Regions from separate parts of the Homo sapiens genome. Here region 2 is linked to region 1. The links come from fine-mapping of genetic effects on gene expression. A gene starts in region 1. The other region holds a variant in brackets. All regions are shown on one strand. Distances are between the middles of the regions. Region 1 holds the start of RFX5 (regulatory factor X5). Region 2 overlaps PSMD4 (proteasome 26S subunit ubiquitin receptor, non-ATPase 4).

Region 1 (9,383 bases):
TGGGCCAGTCTCTCTGGCTTCTTGTGGGCTCCACCCTCTGGGTTCTCTAAACCATTCTTTGGTTTAGATGACCGTTCCCGAGGTGCATGTTCGTCCTCTTCTGCAGAGGTACCAAAAAGGTAATAGAGTGAAGGTGAGGAGGAAACTGAGGAATAGGGGAGTGAGGCAATTCTGATTGACTGACTGGTAGAGACAGGAAATGGGGTGCTAAAGCATGTCTTAGAAGGGTCTCCAGGAAGAGGGGGCAAATCCAAGGTGTCTCTATTCTAGTGTGTGGGAGGGCCACTGAAGCTGAAAGTGGCTCAGGGTTGCTGAGACATAAGAGAGGGTCAACACACCAGCGAGCCCCATGGCCTTAAGCACATGGGCATGTGCAGATCGGGCAGAGATGAGATGCTGCTGTAGCAGGAAGCGGGCGACCTCAACGATGGAACTGAAGGACCGTTTCAGGATCCGCTCTGCCCAGTCACAGGTCAGGGCACACGCTGCCTCCACCAGTTCATCTCGAGGTGCTGGGGTTACTTCTGGGCCCATTTCTGGCTGAAGTGGGGAAGGACATGCCCAATCACACTCCAAATTAAAGAACCCTTGCCTCCTCTCTTGTCAGAGATCAAAGACTATTGACCAAAGCTGAGACCAGACTGGGGATGGGAGTAGCCTCTACCTATCCCATTGCAGAAGCCCACAAGTTCTCTTCATCCTCTGCCTCAGCTACAGGGTTGGCAGAAGGGAACATCATACCTAGAAGCTATGTACATAATGACTGAGGCTGTTAGCCCTCAAAACATGCCCCAAAGACCTCTGACTTTTACCTGGGAGAGAAGAGTGGAATTGGAAGGTGATTTGGTACTTACACTCTCAGAACCCTTTAGGTCAAGTCCAGGCAGGGGTGGCATAGACACCAAGGTCTTCCTCCTTATGCCACTGTAGCAATATCTGATGCAAGTTAAAGAGCAGCCAACACATGGCGATCTCCAAGCCCCTCGAGCAAGTTAAGCTGTTCCACTCCTTGCTCTCCACATCCTAAGTCTTCCTCCCAGGTCCTCCACCCCCAACCTCTCTAGTCAAGGATACTTGGACTGGCCCCGGCCACCAAGCCTTCGAGCTTTGATGTCAGGGAAGATCTCTCTGATGATCTTGCCAAAGTTGGCTGTGCTGAGTGGGCGGCAACAGGCAAGACTCTCACAGTACTTCCTGAGTGAGAGGGGAGCAGAGTGGGAAGATACTCAGAGAAGGAGGCCATGGGTAGGCTCGAAGAGTCCCTAGGGATCAAGTGTGAGGAACCCTTTAAGAAGGCAGGCTTTATCAAGGCAGGAAGCTCTTCATGGGTGAGGGGGTCCTATGCCCACCAATCCACTCATCCCACCACCCACCCCTCCACCCACCGATAGGCATCATAAACACTTTGCTTTGGCAGACAGGTGTCAGTGTGCTCTTCCAGGTGGTTGCGGATCCACCTATAGGCATACATGTACTCCTCATTGCTCAGTGTACTTGGCTCTGAGCTACAGAAACAAAAGGAACAAGCATTACTAAGACCCTAACAGTTGTCCTGGTTCTTCCCAAACTACCACTTCAGTAGTGCTGGACCAAATTTAGTTCACCCAGAATCTAACTTTCCCTGGTAAACCAAGTCAGGGCGAGGACCTTTCCTCTTCATCAAGGACAGCATTTACGAGTATTCCTATTCACCTCACCCCTTCCCAGTGAACCTTTCTCTAAGAATCAGAACCTCTGCCATCTAAAACTACTATCAAACCTACCTTTTGTCTCCAGTGGTGGGTCCTGAGGGGAGCTGAAGGTAGAGATACAGCTTGTCATTGTCAGAAAATTTCTGTACATCTTGCTGAGGTAGGAGAGAACAGAGGCAGGAGAAATAATAAGGCCAAGAAGGACCCAATATAGGACCCTCTGATCCCCACACCAAAGTCTAGCTGACTTACAGGGTGTCAGACTGAAAAAGGACCTTAGAAATTATTTGACAAGGCCGGGCACGGTGGCTCACGCCTACAATCCCAGCACTTTGGAAGGCCAAGGCAGGCTGATCACAAGGTCAGGAGATCGAGACCATCCTGGCTAACATGGTGAAACCCCGTTTCTACTAAAAATACAAAAAAAAATTAGCTGGGTGTGGTGACGGGCGCCTGTAGTCCCAGCTACTTGGGAGGCTGAGGCAGGAGAATGGCGTGAACCTGGGAGGCGGAGCTTGCAGTGAGCCGAGATTGCGCCACTGCACTCCAGCCTAGGCGACAGAGTGAGACTCCATCTCAAAAAAAAAAAAAAAAAAGAAAGAAATTATTTGATGCTAGGTGCTCTGAGGAGCCCTATAGGCTACCATGGAGAGGAGGGAAGTAGAGGGGATCAGCTCTGACTTCATCTCTGCTGGGCTTCTATGCAAGTGCTCACAGAGATCAAGTGAGAGGCACAAAGTCAAACTGGCAGCAAGTTTGCAAAGCCAACTATCTTCTGACAAGGCAGAGGACCCTACCTCTCCCACATCAATGTTTTGTTGATGCCCATCATCCTCACATCCTCCTCCCTCAGCATTTCCATCCCTCTCTTGCCCTCTTCCCCAACACACTTACCAGGATCCCCTCTACTTTGTTCTGCACGGCCTTGCTGTGGGGAAGAGGAGAAAGCTGGAGGTCACACACAAGATTTTCCCTGTCTCTTTATCTGACTGCTAGGGAGGGAAAAGGACTGAAATGCCCAGCAGGTGCTCAAGAATTGCTACCATGGCCAAAAATCTCCCTCTGCTCCCATGCCCTTGCTGAGAGGCAGTTCATCTACAGCCAAAGTGAAGTGCTGCAGGGATCTATACTCAGGTCTTGGACAGGACTTGGAGATGTGATGAGTACTTACGAAATGGTACCTCGGAGCCTCTGAAGAAGGGTGGTAGGTTCCCCAGCCTCAGCACCACCTGGGGGGGCCCTTCCCCCAGTCTTGGGGCTCTTAGCATCAGGCTCATCTTCTGCCATCCCGGCATGAGGGCTAGAATTGAGAGGGACAGGCATAAAGATGTAACTCACACTGGCCTTCCCTTCCCCAGAAGGCCCCAGGGCACTCCTCATCTCTTTACCCAGAAAGGCAGAGAAACAGAAACAAAGCCTCCGAATTTCCCCGGTGGTCTTTTTCTCACCACTTGCCTTCTCCGAAAATTAGAAATTATTCCATTACTTCGCCAGGCCCATATATGCCCAAAGAGATCTTTGCCATCTCCATTCTATCTGCCCCACCTTTCTGAAGTCTCCTAAATCTGGAAAACTGTAAAGGAAGAGATAGGGGGATTGGGAATCCATGTTAGCAAGAAATTTTCATTTCTGCCTCTGACCCCATACTGCCCTCCTCCCCCTCAAAAACAACAATAACAGCCACAAAACAAAGTTCTCTAATTCTCAAAAATACTCCTCACCATTGCATATGCCTGGGAGGTCAGAAAGGATACGAACATATTCTGCCCTTCTAGGCTTGGAAAAAAAACTGGGCCCAAGTTCTCATTACTTAATCTCGCCACGACTTCCCCCGCTGCTCCCCCTCCCCACGTCGCCGGCCCCTACGTCATCTCCCACAACAGCCCATCCTGAGGCGCGCCCCCACCTCCTTCCCTTCCCCCTCCATTCAATCCCCGGTTTCTGCAAAGTGGAGCGGGGGTGGGGCGGGGTAGCGGAACTCATGCGCTGGGCGTCAGAAACCCGGCAGGGGAATGGGGTCCCAGATTCCGGGCACGTGCACATGGGTGAAGAAGCTGTTGAAAATACAGCTACAATCTTTTTCTGCTCTCCTCCCAACTCATCTTGCCCCTCCCTACCTCTGAACAGTCGCCTTCCAACACAAGCAACAATAAAGGTAAGGGAGAAAGAGAAACTACCTCGTAGCCACCTTCACTCCAGCCCAGCCCCAAGGTCCTGGCCCAGCCGGCTCGTGCGTTGCTTTATTTTCCTTTTTCTGAATGGTTGTAACAGCCGCGATCTGCCTAGATACACGGGCGGCCTGCTCTGTCATTGGTCACTGCTGCCACCCGGAGACAGAAGGCGCCGGGCTCGTACCGGCGGCCGCTGAAGTCTGCCTGGTAACAGAATCTGATTGGTCAATAGGGGAGGGAAAATCCAAAGTTGGTCTTATTTGAGTCAAGAGGGGGAAGTCCGGGTTGGGTTTCGGTTAAAACTGGGGTCGGTTGGGACTGCAGGTCCCAAGAGGTTCTTCTCTTAAAGGGACCGCAGGATGAAAGAACGGGCGCTCGGCTCCCTTTGGAACTGTCTTTTCTTTTGCCCTCCCCTTTTGTGTTTCAGTTTAGTCTACGGTCCTCAGAGCTGCCGGAAGAGAAGAATCAATGGATGATAAAATAACTAGACAATGATGGGTAGGAGTGATGGAAGTTCACTGTAAGCTCCTATAACCCCCCATCACCATCACCACATGCCTAATACAACCTGCAGACACACTTACTCGCAACAGACCTGCAATCTGGGCTCTCTTTTCCTTCTTGATGGAGGCCTCAAAACCTCAGCAGTTGTACCCATTAAACTAAAATGCTTTTTCCCTCTTAGTATTTCTTGGTTTCCCGTGTGTACTTTACTTCCAAAGAGTTGCAAATGCATTTGCATCCCCATAGTTCTGCAGTCGGTGAACCCTGGAATTTTGATGGACTCCCACGGGGGTGCTGGATGCCACAGGAACTTTTTACACTCAGGGAACATTGTACTGAATAGGTCATGGGTTCTTAACCCTCTTACTTAAGACATTTTAAGGTTATGAATCAGACAAAAGCAATGGACCCTCTACCATGAAAAATGCACACAGAGACCAAGTTTTGCATCTAATTTCAGAGAGGTCATGGACTCCAGGTTGAAAGCCTCTTACATGGATGTATTTTGTTTTGCGCAGCGGTCATGTTACAACCAAAACTGTATTTGCCATCCTGACATCTAATATGTTCTCCAGGCTCATCATTAATGTGCTTTTGTAAAGAAGACAGTAGTGCTGCCTGAGCTCATCACCATTGCCCTTTACAGCCTACCTTTCCCTATTATCAGCTTCTATGAGTGCTGGGGGAACCCAGGAGATTGTGGAGTTGGGGCAATAAGGATATATTGGCAAGAGGTTTTCTTTTTTCTTTCTTTCTTTCTTTTTTTTTTTTCTTTGAGACGGAGTCTCGCTCTGTTGCCCAGGCTGGAGTGCAATGGCACGATCTTGGCTCACTGCAACCTCCGCCTCCTGGGTTCAAGCGATTCTCCTGCCTCACCCTCCCGAGTAACTGGGTTTACAGACGTGCATCACCACGCCCAGATAATTTTTGTGTTTTTAGTAGAGACGGAGTTTCACCATGTTGGTCAGGCTGGTCTCAAACTCCTGACTTCAGGTGATCCACCTGCCTTGGCCTCCCAAAGTGCTGGGATTACAGGTGTGAGCCACTGCACCTGGCCAGGTTTTCTAATAACAGCTAAAATTTATTTGGTGTTTATTAGGCCAGGCGCGGTGGCTCACGCCTGTAATCCCAAAACTTTGGGAGGCTGAGGTGGGCGGATCACCTAAGGTTGGGAGTTCGAGACCAGCTTGACCAACATGAAGAAACCCCGTCTCTACTAAAAATACAAGATTAGCCGGGCGTGGTGGCGCATGCCTGTAATCCCAGCTACTCGGGAGGCTGAGGCAGGAGAATCACTTGAACTGGGGAGGCGGAGGATTGTGCCATTACACTACAGCCTGGCAACAAGAGCGAAACTCCGTCTCAAACAAAAACAAACAAAAATTTATTTGGTGTTTATTAGGTATCAGACACCATACCAAATGCTAAACACCTCGTGTAATGCTCACAGCAACTCTCTGAAGTAGGTACTGTTACTGTCTCCATTTTACAGATGAGGAAACCAATGTGGAGAGGTGAAGGGACTTGTCCTTAGTCATATATGTAGAAAGTGCTAGAATCAGGATCCAAAGGCAGGCAGTCTGCCTCAAAGCTGATTGTTTTGAGCACTGCCTTAGACTGCATGTATACATATTTGCAGATACTCATAAATAAATATGGGTATAACGGGCTGGACATGATGGCTCATGCCTATAATCTCAATACTTTGGGAGGCAAAGGCAAGAGGATTGCTTGGGGCCAGGAGTTTGAGACCAGCCTGGGCAACAAAGTGAGACTCTGTCTCTCTCTAAACACACACACACACACACACACACACACACACACACACACACACACACACCACACACAGCCAGGTGTGGTGGTACATGCCTGTGGTTCCAGCAACTTGGGAGGCTGAAGCAGGAGGATCACTATTACCCATGAGTTCGAGGCTGCAGTGAGCTATGATTGCACCACTCTGTCGTGCAGCCTGGGTGACAGAGTAAGACCCTGTCTCAAAACAAACAAACAAACAAAAAACAAAAAAAAAGCCGGCTGGTGTGGTGGCTCATGCCTATAATCCCAGCACTTTGGGAGGCTGAGGTGGGCAGATCACCTGAGGTCAGTTTGAGACCAGCCTGACCAACATGGAGAAACCCCGTCTCTACTAAAAACAAAAAACAAAAAACAAAACAAAAAACAAAACAAAATTAGCCAGTCGTGGTGGTGCATGCCTGTAATCCCAGCTACTTGGCAGGCTGAGGCAGGAGAATTGCTTGAACCTGGGAGGCGGAGGTTGGGTGAGCCGAGATCATGCCATTGCACTCCAGCCTGGGCAACAAGAGCGAAACTCCATCTCTAAATAAATAAATAAATAAATAGCAAGCCAAATATGGATATAGACTGATGGAAAGATAGCCCTAACACCACTGTTTGGTATGAAGGAGAACCTAGAGCACTTTGGTTGCAAACAGAGTTTTGGGTAAGTTATCTAGCTTAAAAATTTGCAGATAACAGGGAAAAACTGGAAGCTTTAGTAAGGGGGGAGAAAGTATCATAGTACATAGTACCTAGTAAAAGAGATGATTTTGACAGCACTATAGAAGGTAGAGTTGAGTGAAAGAAAAGGCTAGAGATAGGAAAGAGGAAACTATTAATTTATGCCAGGCATTGTGTTAAGAGCTAGGGATACAAAGCTGAATAAGGTATGGTCCTTGCCTTGGGCAGTAACAATAAAAATTGTCCGGATAAGCATCATATAACAGCAAGTATTTATACAGAGCCTAATATGTGTTGGGGCCCGTTCTTTTTTTTTTCGAGACGGATTCTTGCTCTGTCACCCAGGCTGGAGAGCAGTGGCGCAATCTCGGCTCACTGCAAGCTCTGCCTCCCAGGTTCAAGTGATTCTCCTGCCTCAGCCTCACAAGTAGCTGGGACTACAGGCGCCTGCCACCACACCGGGCTAATTTTTTTGTATTTTTAATAGAAACGGGGTTTCACCATGTTAGCCAGGATGGTCTCTATCTCCTGACCTCGTGATCCGCCCGCCTCAGCCTCCCAAAGTGCTGGGATTACAGGCGTGAGCTACCGCGTGCGGCCTCAGATAGATACTATGATTATCCCCATTTTACAGGTGAGGAGACAGGCATTGAAAGGTTAATAATTTGCCCAAGATTACATCATAATTTAGTAAGCTATGGAGCCAGGATCTGCACCTAGGCTCTTTGCGTTGCAGCTTTTTTTTTTTTTCCTTTTTAGACAGAGTCTCACTCTGTCATCCAGGCTGTAGTGCAGTGGCTCCACTGCACTTGGCTCACTGCAACCTCTGCCTCCCAGGTTCAAGTGATTTTCCTACCTCAGCCTCCTGAGTAGCTGGGATTACAGGCGTGTGCCACCACACCTGGCTAATTTTTGTATTTTTAGTAGAAATGGGGTCTCACCATTTTGGCCAAGCTAGTCTTGAGCTCCTGACCTCAAATGATCCACCCACCTTGGCTTCCAAAAGTGCTGGGATTATAGGCGTGAGCCACCATGCCTGGCCTGTTGCAGCTTTTTCACTCTTGCTGTTTGGAGAGTGGGAGGGAGTGTTCCAGCATTTTCACTTCAACTGCTGGTGGACTCTGTATTCTTGTCCCACGACCAAGAAGAATAAGGTGTGTAGACACTGGAGAGTGAGTAAGGCAGTCAGATTTATTTATTTATTTACTTATTTATTTTATTATTTTTTTTGAGATGGGGGAGTCTCACTCTGTCACCTGAACTGGAGTGCAGTGGCATGATCTTGGCTCACTGCAACCTCCGCCTCCCGGGTTCAAGCGATTCTCTTGCCTCAGCCTCCCAAGTAGCTAGAACTGTAGGTGCCTGCTACCACACCCAGCCAATATTTTGCTTTTTGTTTTTTTTTTGGCGGGGGGGCGATGGAGTTTCACTCTGTTACCAAGCTGGAGTGCAGTGGCACAATCTTGGCTCACTGCAACCTCCACCTCCTGGGTACAAACAATTCTCCTGCCTCAGCCTCCCAGGTAGCTGAGATTACAGGCGCCTGCCACCATGCCCAGCTAATTTTTGTATTTTTAGTAGAGATGGTGTTTCACCATGTTGTCCAGGACGGTCTCAATCTCTTGACCTCATGATCTGCCCGTCTTGGCCTCTCAAAGTGCTGGGATTACAGGTGTGAGCCACCGAACCTGGCTAATTTTTTGTATTTTTAGTACAGACGGGGTTTCACCATGTTGGCCAGGCTGGTCTCAAACTCCTGACCAGCCAGAGTCAGATTTATTAAGCAACAGAAAAGCTCTCAGCAAAGAGGGGGCCTGAAAGAGGATTGCCAGCTATGAGGCTGAGTGGGAGGGTGAGGAGGGTGGCTTATGGACTGGGAAAGGGAGGAGTGTGCTGATCGGGCCTGCAGGCTATCTTGCAGAAAGCACCACTCAGAAAGAGGTATGATAGTGTAAAGAACCAGTTGGAGGCAGAAGTGAAGGCTTGGCTCAACAACTTGGCCTGGAACCAAGTCAGGGGCTGAAGTGAAAGCTTGGGCCAGGACCTTGGCCTGGAACCAATCAGGGGCTGAAGTGATGATTCACCCTATGTAAATGAAGACTCCCGCTGTGGCCAATCACAGAAAGGTAAGCATATGTAAAATAGATGAAAACTAAGAGACTAAGGTGTGCCAAAGAGAGTGAAATATGTCCAAAAAGGGAGTGGTATTTGTTCATCTGGGTTCCTAGAGTAGGTATTTCCATTCCAGGATGCGGGCTGTCACTTATCTGGGGCCTGCAGTTTAATTTTCAGGCTGTTCTTTGTTTGAAGGAGTTTTACCAAGGACCCACCTTAACTGCCTGCCTGACTGGTTTCTTCTTTCTCCTCTCTCATTTCATTCAGAATTTGCTCTTGGACACTATTATACATTGCCTACTAAGATTGGGAGTGAATTTTTTTTTTATTTTTTAAGACAGTGTCTTGCTTTCTCACGCAGGCTGGAGTGCAGCAGCACAAGCTCGGCTCACTGCAACCTCCACCTCCCGAGTTCAAGCAATAC
Region 2 (9,665 bases), 80 kb before region 1:
CGGAGGTTGCAGTGAGCTGAGATTCGCCACTGCACGCCAGCCTGGGTGACAGAGCGAGACTCTGTCTCAAAAAATAAAAAAGAAGAATAGAGATTACAATTAGAATAGAAATAATGGTTATTATCCAGGTCTTTAAAGAAAAGTCAGACACAGGCCAGGTGCGGTGGCTCACGCCTGTAATCCCAGCACTTTGGAAGGCCAAGGTGGGCGGATTACGAGGTCAGGAGATCGAGACCATCCTGGCTAACACAGTGAAACCCCGTCTCTACTAAAAAAAATACAAAAAATTAGCCAGGCGTGGTAGTGGGTGCCCGTAGTCCCAGCTACTTGGGAGTCTGAGGCAGGAGAATGGCGTGAACCCGGGAGGCGGAGCTTGCAGTGACCCGAGATCACGCCACGCACTCCAGCCTGGGTGACAGAGTGAGACTCCGTCTAAAAAATAAATAAATAAAAGTTAGACACAGTTTAGAGGTACTTGTGCTGACCTGAATTCACTGAAATGCTTTTCCTACATCCCAGTGACTGTGAAGTGCTGACCACACTCACCCCAGACACTGGCCGTATCCTGTCCAAGCTACATACTGTCCAACCCAAGGGCAAGATCACCTTCTGCACGGGCATCCGCGTGGCCCATGTGAGTCCTACTGGGTTCCCTGGACCTTTCCTCCCTGCTCTGAGGTCCTGCCTCCATCATACTCATTTCTCCCCTGGAATCCTGAGCTAGGACCAGAGCAAGAGAAAGCTAACTTGGAGTAGAAAGGATATGGGGGATGAATCCCAGGGTAGTTGAGGGTTGTGAAGGGAAAAATCCCTAGAATTGAGAATTAAGGCTGGGCGTGGTAGTTCATGCCTGTAATCCCATCACTTTGGGAGGCCAGGGGAGGAGGATTGCTGAAGGCTAGCAGTTCAAGACCAGCCTGGGCACATAGGGAGACCCTGTTTCTCTAAAAAAAAAAAAAAAAAGGCCGGGCGCGGTGGCTCACACCTGTAATCCCAGCACTTTGGGAGGCTAACACGGGCAGATCACCTGACGTCACGAGTTCGAGACCAATCTGGCCAACGTGGTGAAACCCCATCTCTACTGAAAATATAAAAATTAGCCAGTACTAGGAAGGCTGAGGCAGGATAATCGCTGGAACCCGGGAGGTGGAGGTTGCAGTGAACTGAGATCACGCCACTGCACTCCAGACTGGGCGACAGAGCGAGACTCCATCTCAAAAAAAAAAAAAGAGAGAAAGAGAATTAACCTCCCTTCTTTATGCACAGAGAGTCATAGCAAAAAGGGAGGAGGTGGGGGTGTTAAATCTTGTGTGAACGTGATGGTAGATGGTGTACTTCAGGTACAAAGAAACTGTAAGAAAAAGGGAACCGAGTGACAGAGGAAAGAGCTGAGTGATTCCTCTGGTTAACTCTGAGAACTTCCTCTCCCTTTACAAGCTGGCTCTGAAGCACCGACAAGGCAAGAATCACAAGATGCGCATCATTGCCTTTGTGGGAAGCCCAGTGGAGGACAATGAGAAGGATGTGAGTCCAAGTGGCAGCTGGGGAATGTGGGGAGCCCATGTTTGGGACTGAGGTCTTCCAGCCCTCAGGAGAACCTGGCAGAGGCATCAGGCTCATCACTTTGGGGAAAGGTGAATGTGGAGAATTCAGTGATTCTGTTGGAGGACCTTGGGGAGGTCAATAGATTTCTGTATGCTTTTATGCGGCGGGTCCTTTCCCCCCCTCGAGTATGGAACAGATTTCTTGATTTTTCTCCCCTTCTTCCCAGCTGGTGAAACTGGCTAAACGCCTCAAGAAGGAGAAAGTAAATGTTGACATTATCAATTTTGGGGAAGAGGTGAGTAGGGACTGATTGGAGGGCATTGACTTAATTTGGTCATAAACAGAATGGTCCTTAACCCTGAGGAGTGCGGGTACTGTGGCAGAGTAGTGCAGAAATGGGAAAGAACAGGGAGCAAGGCCTGAAGAAGGGCATCATGTGTTCTTTCCTCCCCAGGAGGTGAACACAGAAAAGCTGACAGCCTTTGTAAACACGTTGAATGGCAAAGATGGAACCGGTTCTCATCTGGTGACAGTGCCTCCTGGGCCCAGTTTGGCTGATGCTCTCATCAGTTCTCCGATTTTGGCTGGTGAAGGTGGTGCCATGCTGGGTCTTGGTGCCAGTGACTTTGAATTTGGAGTAGATCCCAGTGCTGATCCTGAGCTGGCCTTGGTGAGCAAATGTTGACCCCAGGTAGAGTCCAAAGGTCCCTCTTTGTTCTCTTCTGGCACACACATCACAGAGCTTCTATCAGGCTGGATAGTCCTAGACACTACCAATCACTCATTTTCCAAGACCTCCTTTTGCCGCCTCTTCCCTATAATGCTGTCTGATCTCTAGGGGCACCAGTGTCAGATGCTTTCTTGTTCACTTCTGATGAAAACCGAGGCTTCTCCCAAGTCCTTACTTTTTAATCCCGTACCACTGCTTATCCCTCCAGCTTCTTCTCTGTGTGATAAACCAGAAGCTGCCCCTTTATGTTCCTTTCCCACACCCCAACTGACTTTCCCAGCTCCCTGTAGGAGTGAGGGCAGGGGAGCCCTGATTATGCCCTGCCCTTCACCAGGCCCTTCGTGTATCTATGGAAGAGCAGCGGCAGCGGCAGGAGGAGGAGGCCCGGCGGGCAGCTGCAGCTTCTGCTGCTGAGGCCGGGATTGCTACGACTGGGACTGAAGGTGAAAGAGGTGGAATCCGAAGTCCTGGGACTGCGGGATGCTAAACATTGAAAGCTGGGTGTAGGCACTGCAGGGAGAGTGTGGAGGTCTGACAGGGTAGGAATATGTGGGAGGGCTGGGCTAGGAATGGCCTTGGAGGCTGGCCTGTGTGGATATGGCACCAATTCTACCCTGCTCCTCTTTTCCTTTTCCCAGACTCAGACGATGCCCTGCTGAAGATGACCATCAGCCAGCAAGAGTTTGGCCGCACTGGGCTTCCTGACCTAAGCAGTATGACTGAGGAAGAGCAGATTGCTTATGCCATGCAGATGTCCCTGCAGGGAGCAGGTGAGCCAGAGCCTGGGTGGTGCCTAGGCAGAGGTTGGGGTGAGGAAGTGTAACTGAACAGACTGACCTCTCTTCCTCAGAGTTTGGCCAGGCGGAATCAGCAGACATTGATGCCAGCTCAGCTATGGACACATCTGAGCCAGCCAAGGTGAGACCCAACCCTGCCCCCATCAGGTTTAAAGTCCTTGAATTTAGATCCTCATCCCTCTGGGGCTGGGAGTATTTCTACCATAGCTAAGTCCTTTGAGGAGCAGAGGGAAACACATGGATTTGCATTTCTTACATGTAAACCTTGCTAAGGTAGCAATGCTAATGGTCAGAGTTGGAGAAATGTCCTCTTGTTCTGTAATTTTCCTTTCTTGCTGGTGGGAGCAGCCTGGGCAGTTCTCTAGGATGTCTTCCCAGGAGGGAAAAAAGCGGGTCTGGGAAAAAGAAAAAGGAGAACTGGGTGTCTTGAGAGCAGGAAACCTCAATGTGATGGCATCTGTTTTTCTCCTCAGAGCTCAATTAACAGAGTTCTCAGCAGGCCCCTCTATTTGGTTAGTAATAACTGCATTCATGCTGTATAAAGGATTTTGCTGACTTGTCCTTTCCTTACGTCGACCAGAGGTGCCCAGATCCCCACACAGTCAGAAGGCAGGGGGCCTCTGGCAGCGGCATGCTCCTGTCCTTAACACCTGCTTACTTCCTGCCGCTCCATACCCTCCCTTGAGCTCACACTGCCTGTTTGCAGGAGGAGGATGATTACGACGTGATGCAGGACCCCGAGTTCCTTCAGAGTGTCCTAGAGAACCTCCCAGGTGTGGATCCCAACAATGAAGCCATTCGAAATGCTATGGGCTCCCTGGCCTCCCAGGCCACCAAGGACGGCAAGAAGGACAAGAAGGAGGAAGACAAGAAGTGAGACTGGAGGGAAAGGGTAGCTGAGTCTGCTTAGGGGACTGCATGGGAAGCACGGAATATAGGGTTAGATGTGTGTTATCTGTAACCATTACAGCCTAAATAAAGCTTGGCAACTTTTTTTCCTTTTTTGCTTCAAATATTGATGGTTTTGAGTGTGAGAGAGGGGAGGAGTCCCTGGCCTGAAGGAGAACCTTCCTTGTTGAGTTCTCTATGTCTCTGTTTCCACCTGTCTGGGCCTCCTAACGTGCTGGGATTACAGGCCCAGGAGCCAGGTTTCCATTTCTAATGAACGAAGACCTTATTTAAACCACCTTCTTGCCAATAACTTTTACTCTGCACTCACACAGCTGAACCCCAAGCATGGAATGATACTCAACCTTTTCAGTTTTTTCATGTGGACTTCTGAGGTTCAGCAAGTTTAGGTTATTTGGCCAAGGATATTTAGCTAATGAAGAGGCAGAACCAGGATCAAAATCCAAACTTGTCTCAGACCTGTCTCGCCAGGAGTTGAATCACCACCAAACAGTAGTTTCCCATTGGTCAGCTGCCTTCAGTGACTCTGCTCAGCCCTGCAAGTCAGTTCCTTGTAGCAACTACTATACCTTCCTCTACTCCCCGATCACTCTCAACAGAAGCCTGACATCTTTACAGAGAGTCAAGGCCGTGAGGCAGGAAGTTCTGGCTCCCTCCCTCCTGCCAGCACCTCCCTGCATCAGTTATGCTGTCTCCTGAGTCTCTGCTGTCCTAAACACCCTGCTGGCGTTTTCCTCTCAGTGTACATGCATAAAATCCACTCTACAAGTAACCTTACCTTGAGACTTTATATTATACGGTTTAAATATTATTTTACAAGGAACATCTATTCCCTTTATAATTTTTTTTAAAGTTTTTTTTTTTTTCAGCCAGGTGCGGTGGCTCACACCTGTAATCCCAGCACTTTGGGAGGCCGAGGTGGGCAGATCACAAGGTCAGGAGTTTGAGACCAGCCTGACCAATATGGTGAAACCCCGTCTCTACTAAAAATAGAAAAAAAATTAGCCGGGTGTGGTGGCACACGCCTGTAATTCCAGCTACTCAGGAGGCTGAGGCAGGAGAATTGCTTGAACCCAGGAGGCGGAGGTTGCAGTGAGCTGAGATCATGCCACTGCATTCCAGCCTGGGCGACAGAGGGAGACTCTCAAAAAATAAAAAATTAAAAAA[T/A]ATATATATATATTTTTATTTATTTTAAACAAAGTCTGTGCTCTGTCACCCAGGCTGGGGTGCAGTGGTGTGATCATAGCTCACTGTAGCCTCAACCTCCTAGCCTAAAGGATCCTCCTGCCTCAGCCTCCTGCATAGCTGGGACTAAGGCACACACTACCACGCCCAGCTAATTTTTTTTTTTTTTTTTTGAGATGGAGTCTGTCGCACAGGCTGGAGTGCAGTGGCACTGTCTTGGCTCACTGCAACCTCTGCCCCCCAGGCTCAAGCAGTTCTCATGCCTCAGCCTCGCAAGTAGCTGGGACTATAGGTATGTACCACCATGCCTGGCTAATTTTTAATTTTTTTTATAGATATGCGGTCTATGTTTCCCAGGCTGGTCTTGAACTCCTGGGCTCAAGTGATCCTCCCACCTCGGCCTCCCAAAGTGCTGGGATTATAGGTGTGAGCCACCGTGCCTGGCCTATATAGTTTTAAAAGTTAGATTTGTAATAAAAATTGGTAGGGTCCTGCCCTACCCCTCTGCACTCTTGAGGTCTACTCCCAGAAGTAATCAATTTAACTTCTTTAGCTAGCTCTTCCTGTGCTTACTTCCTTATTCCCAAAGAATGAACTTATATGGCTATTTCTTAATTTTTCCATTTTAGCCATTATCTATACTGTTTACTATAGAATATTATAATTTAGTTTTTTTTTTGTTTTCGAGGCAGAGTTTCGCTCTTGTTGCCCAGGCTAGAGTGCAATGGCACGATCTCTGCTCACTGCAACCTCCGCCTCCTGGGTTCAAGCGATTCTCCTGCCTTAGCCTCCCAAGTAGCTGGGATTACAGGCATGTGCCACCACACCCGTCTAATTTTTTTATTTTTGGTAGAGACGGTTTCATCATCTTGGCCAGGCTGGTCTTGAACTCCTGACCTCGTGATCTACCTGCCTCGGCCTCCTGAAGTGCTGGGATTACAACGCCTGACTAATTTTTATATTTTTTTTGTAGAGACGGGGTTTCGCCAGGTTACCTAGACTGGTCGTGAGCTCAAGCAATCTGCCCACCTCAGCCTCCCAAAGTGCTGGAATTATAGGCCTGAACCACCACACCTAGCATTTTTTTTTTTTTTTTTTTTTTTGAGACGGAGTCTTGCTCTGTCACCCAGGCTGGAGTGCAGTGGCATGATCTTGGCTCACTGCAAGCTCCGCCTCCCGGGTTCACGCCATTCTCCTGCCTCAGCCTCCCGAGTAGCTGGGACTACAGGCGCCCGCCACCACGCCCGGCTAATTTTTTGGATTTTTAGTAGAGATGGGGTTTCACCGTGTTAGCCAGGATGGTCTGGATCTGACCTTGTGATCCGCCCGCCTCGGCCTCCCAAAGTGCTGGGATTACAGGCTTGAGCCACCACCTCCCAAAGTGCTGGGATTACAGGCTTGAGCCACCACGCCCGGCCCATTGTTTTTGTTTTTATTCTTTTACCATGAGAAATAGAAACCTCCTCTCATTGGTCAAATACAGTAGGTAACCTGTTAACCTCACGTGATGGCCTCCTGAGCTTGCTCCAATGTGGATTGGTTGTCCTCGACCTGCTGCAAAGTTTTAGTTCTGGCCCTTCCCTGCACCTTCACCCTGGGACTCACTTATTTCCTGGATGCCATATTTTGGTTTTCCTTTGTTTCATCCTCTGTTTTAGTAGAATTTGTCATCCAGTAGCTTTCTGAGAAAGGAGCACAGCAAGTTTATTTTTTGTGTGTCTGAAAACATCTTGGCAGAGTATAGAATTCTACATTTAAAATAATGTTTCTTTAGAATTTTGAAGGCATTGCCTCATTGTTTTCAGTTTTCTTCTTGTTTGTTTTTTCTTTTTCTCAATGTTTCAGCATCCAGAGGAATGCTTGTTGGTGTTGAGACAGGGTCTCACTTTGTCACCCAGGCTGCAATGCAGTGGCAGGAACACGGCTCAGGCTGACTGCCGCCGCTACCTCTGAGGCTCAAGCAGTCCTCTTGCCTCACTATCTCAACTGTCTAGGACTACAGGTGCATGCCACAACACCCATCTGGTTTTTGTATTTTTTGTAGAGATGGTGGTTTTTGTATTTTTTGTAGAGATGGTGTTTCACCACGTTGCCCAGGCTGGTCTGGAACTCCTGACCCTAAGTGATCTGCCCACCTCGGCCTCCCAAAGTGCTGAGATTACAGGCATGAGCCACCTTGCCCATGGCCTGTATTCTAGTTTTCAGGGTGTATTATTAAGAAACCAGGGCTGGGTGTGATAGCTCATGCTTGTAATCCCAGCACTTTGGGAGGCCAAGGCGGGAGGATAACTTGAGCCCAGGAGTTCAAGACCAGTCTGGGGAACATGGCAAGACCCCATTCCCCCACATTTTCTTAATTAAAAACAAAAAAACAAAAAAAGTTAGCTGGCTGTGGTGCAGTGCACCTATAGTTCTAGCTACTCATGAGGCTGAGGTGGGAGTATCACTTGAGCTAAGGGGTCCAGGCTGCAATGAGCAGTGATCACGTTACTGTACTCTAGCCTGGGCAACAGAGCAAGACTGTCCCAAAAAACAAACAAAAAAAGCATCCTGTTTTTGTATCATGGGTGCAATATCTTCTATTTCTTTTCTTTTTTTTTTTTTTTTTTTTTGATACAGAGTCTTTTTCTGTCACCCAGGCTGGAGTGCAGTGGCATGATCTCAGCTTACTGCAACCTCTGCCTCCGGGGTTCAAGCAATTCTCCTGCCTCAGCCTCCCGAGTAGCTGGGACTACAGGCATGTGCCACCACGCCCAGCTAATTTTTGTATTTTTAGTATAGACAGGGTTTCACCATCTTGGCCAAGTTGGTCTTGAACTCCTGTCCTCATGATCTACCTGCCTCAACCTCCCAAAGTGCTGGGATTACAGGTGTGAACCACCACGCCCAGCCAATCTTATATTTCTAAGTATAGTCATTGCAGTTTTAGGATATTTTCTTCCGGTCCCTTCATTATCTGTTACTCTCTGGGCTCCTCCTCTTTTGGCTTCTTTTATGTTGGAGGCTGCCTTCAACTCTCAGATGATCCTTGGCTGTCTGTCCCCACTTAAGAGAGAGCTGCCTGGAAACTCCATGGGTGGGGTGAGCAGAGACCGTCATATGTGGGCCTCCCTGGGAGTAAGGAGGGAGGGAGCAGCATTTGAGTTCCTGTTGGCTTCTTCTCCTGAGTCAGTCATTATCTCCAACAAGGAATTTTCCAATCTTCCTTCCCCTGCTTTCAGAGGCCCAAGGACTTTTCTGTTTTTGAGCCTTTTTGGGATCTAAGACTGATTATTTTGTTCTTTGTTGGCTCTTCACTCCCTACATTATGAGTAGAATGGAAAAATCCCCAAACTTAAGTCAGTTATCCTGCACATCTGGCTTTCTGCACATCCTGTGCAGAAATCCTGTGTCAGTTATCTGCACATCTGTATCAAACTAAATCAGTCTCTCATTTGCTGTAGTCTTCTCTTTGTCCTTGTGCTTTTTCATGTCTTATTATTTATTTATTTATTTGTTTATTTATTTATTTTTGAGACGGAGTCTCGCTCTGTCACCCAGGCTGGAGTGCAGTGGTACGATCTCGGCTCACTGCAAGCTCCGCCTCCCGGGTTCACGCTATTCTCCTGCCTCAGCCTCTTGAGTAGCTGGGACTACAGGCGCCTGCCACCACGCCTGGCTAATTTTTTGTATTTTTAGTAGAGACGGGGTTTCACTGTGTTAGCCAGGATGGTCTCGATCTCCTGACCTCATGATCCACCCGCCTCGGCCTCCCAAAGTGCTGGGATTACAGGCATGAGCCACCGCGCCCGGCTATTTTTTATTTTTCAGACAGGGTCACTTTTTTGCCCAGGCTGCAGCGCAGTTGGGCCATCATGGCTCACTGCAGTCTTGGCCTCCCAGGCTCAGGTGATCCTCCTACCTTAGCCTCCCCAGTAGCTGGGACTACAGGCACGTGCCACCATGCCTGCCCTTTTTCACTTCTTTACTCTTATTTTGACGTGATTTCTAGGGTGAGCAGAGATAAGCTCAATTCACCACATATAACCAGAAGCTCTTTACTTCTTTAAGATCAATTACCTAATTCCTCTAACTCACAAGGTGGTCGTGAAAATTAAAGGTGGCGGGCAACCCGCTTGGGTCCCCTACTGTAGAAGCTTTGTTCTTTCGCTCTTTGCAATAAATCTTGCTGCTGCTCACTCTTTGGGTCCACACTGCCTTTATGAGGTGTAACACTCACCACGAAGGTCTGCAGCTTCACTCCTGAAGCCAGCGAGACCACGAACCCACCGGGAGGAACGAACAACTCCAGATGCGCCGCCTTAAGAGCTGTAACACTCACCGCGAAGGTCCGTGGCCTCACTCCTGAGCCCCCAAGACCACGAACCCACCAGAAGGAAGAAACTCCAAACACATCCGAACATCAGAAGGAACAAACTCTGGACACGCTGACTTTAAGAACTGTAACACTCACCGCGAAGGTCTGCGGCTTCATTCTTGAAGTCAGTGAGACCAAGAAC

What was found.
Region 2: its variant is fine-mapped to the expression of RFX5 in whole blood (TOPMed, PIP 0.96).

What each region holds. Positions count from the first base shown.
Region 1 is chr1:151,343,343-151,352,725 of GRCh38, forward strand. RFX5 (regulatory factor X5) reads right to left here and starts at 3,910. Exons shown (of 11, transcript NM_001025603.2): 1 at 3,869-3,910; 2 at 3,147-3,264; 3 at 2,863-2,991; 4 at 2,586-2,619; 5 at 1,764-1,846; 6 at 1,386-1,505; 7 at 1,075-1,194; 8 at 855-936; 9 at 339-540; 10 at 1-100. The coding sequence starts at 2,978. It overlaps RFX5-AS1 (RFX5 antisense RNA 1), which reads left to right and starts at 3,668. Exons shown (of 2, transcript NR_131972.1): 1 at 3,668-3,846; 2 at 4,290-4,549. RefSeq lists enhancers at 1-77, 2,743-2,832, 3,172-4,371, 3,426-4,008, 3,975-4,324 and a silencer at 7,858-8,058.
Region 2 is chr1:151,263,395-151,273,059 of GRCh38, forward strand. It overlaps PSMD4 (proteasome 26S subunit ubiquitin receptor, non-ATPase 4), which reads left to right. Exons shown (of 10, transcript NM_002810.4): 3 at 520-634; 4 at 1,438-1,524; 5 at 1,772-1,840; 6 at 2,000-2,215; 7 at 2,610-2,718; 8 at 2,914-3,045; 9 at 3,126-3,193; 10 at 3,779-4,085. The coding sequence ends at 3,949. Among named protein-coding and RNA genes, the nearest start is that of PSMD4, 13 kb to the left of the region's middle. RefSeq lists a silencer at 2,139-2,433 and an enhancer at 2,139-2,433. The variant T/A (reference allele first, on the strand shown) is at 5,149.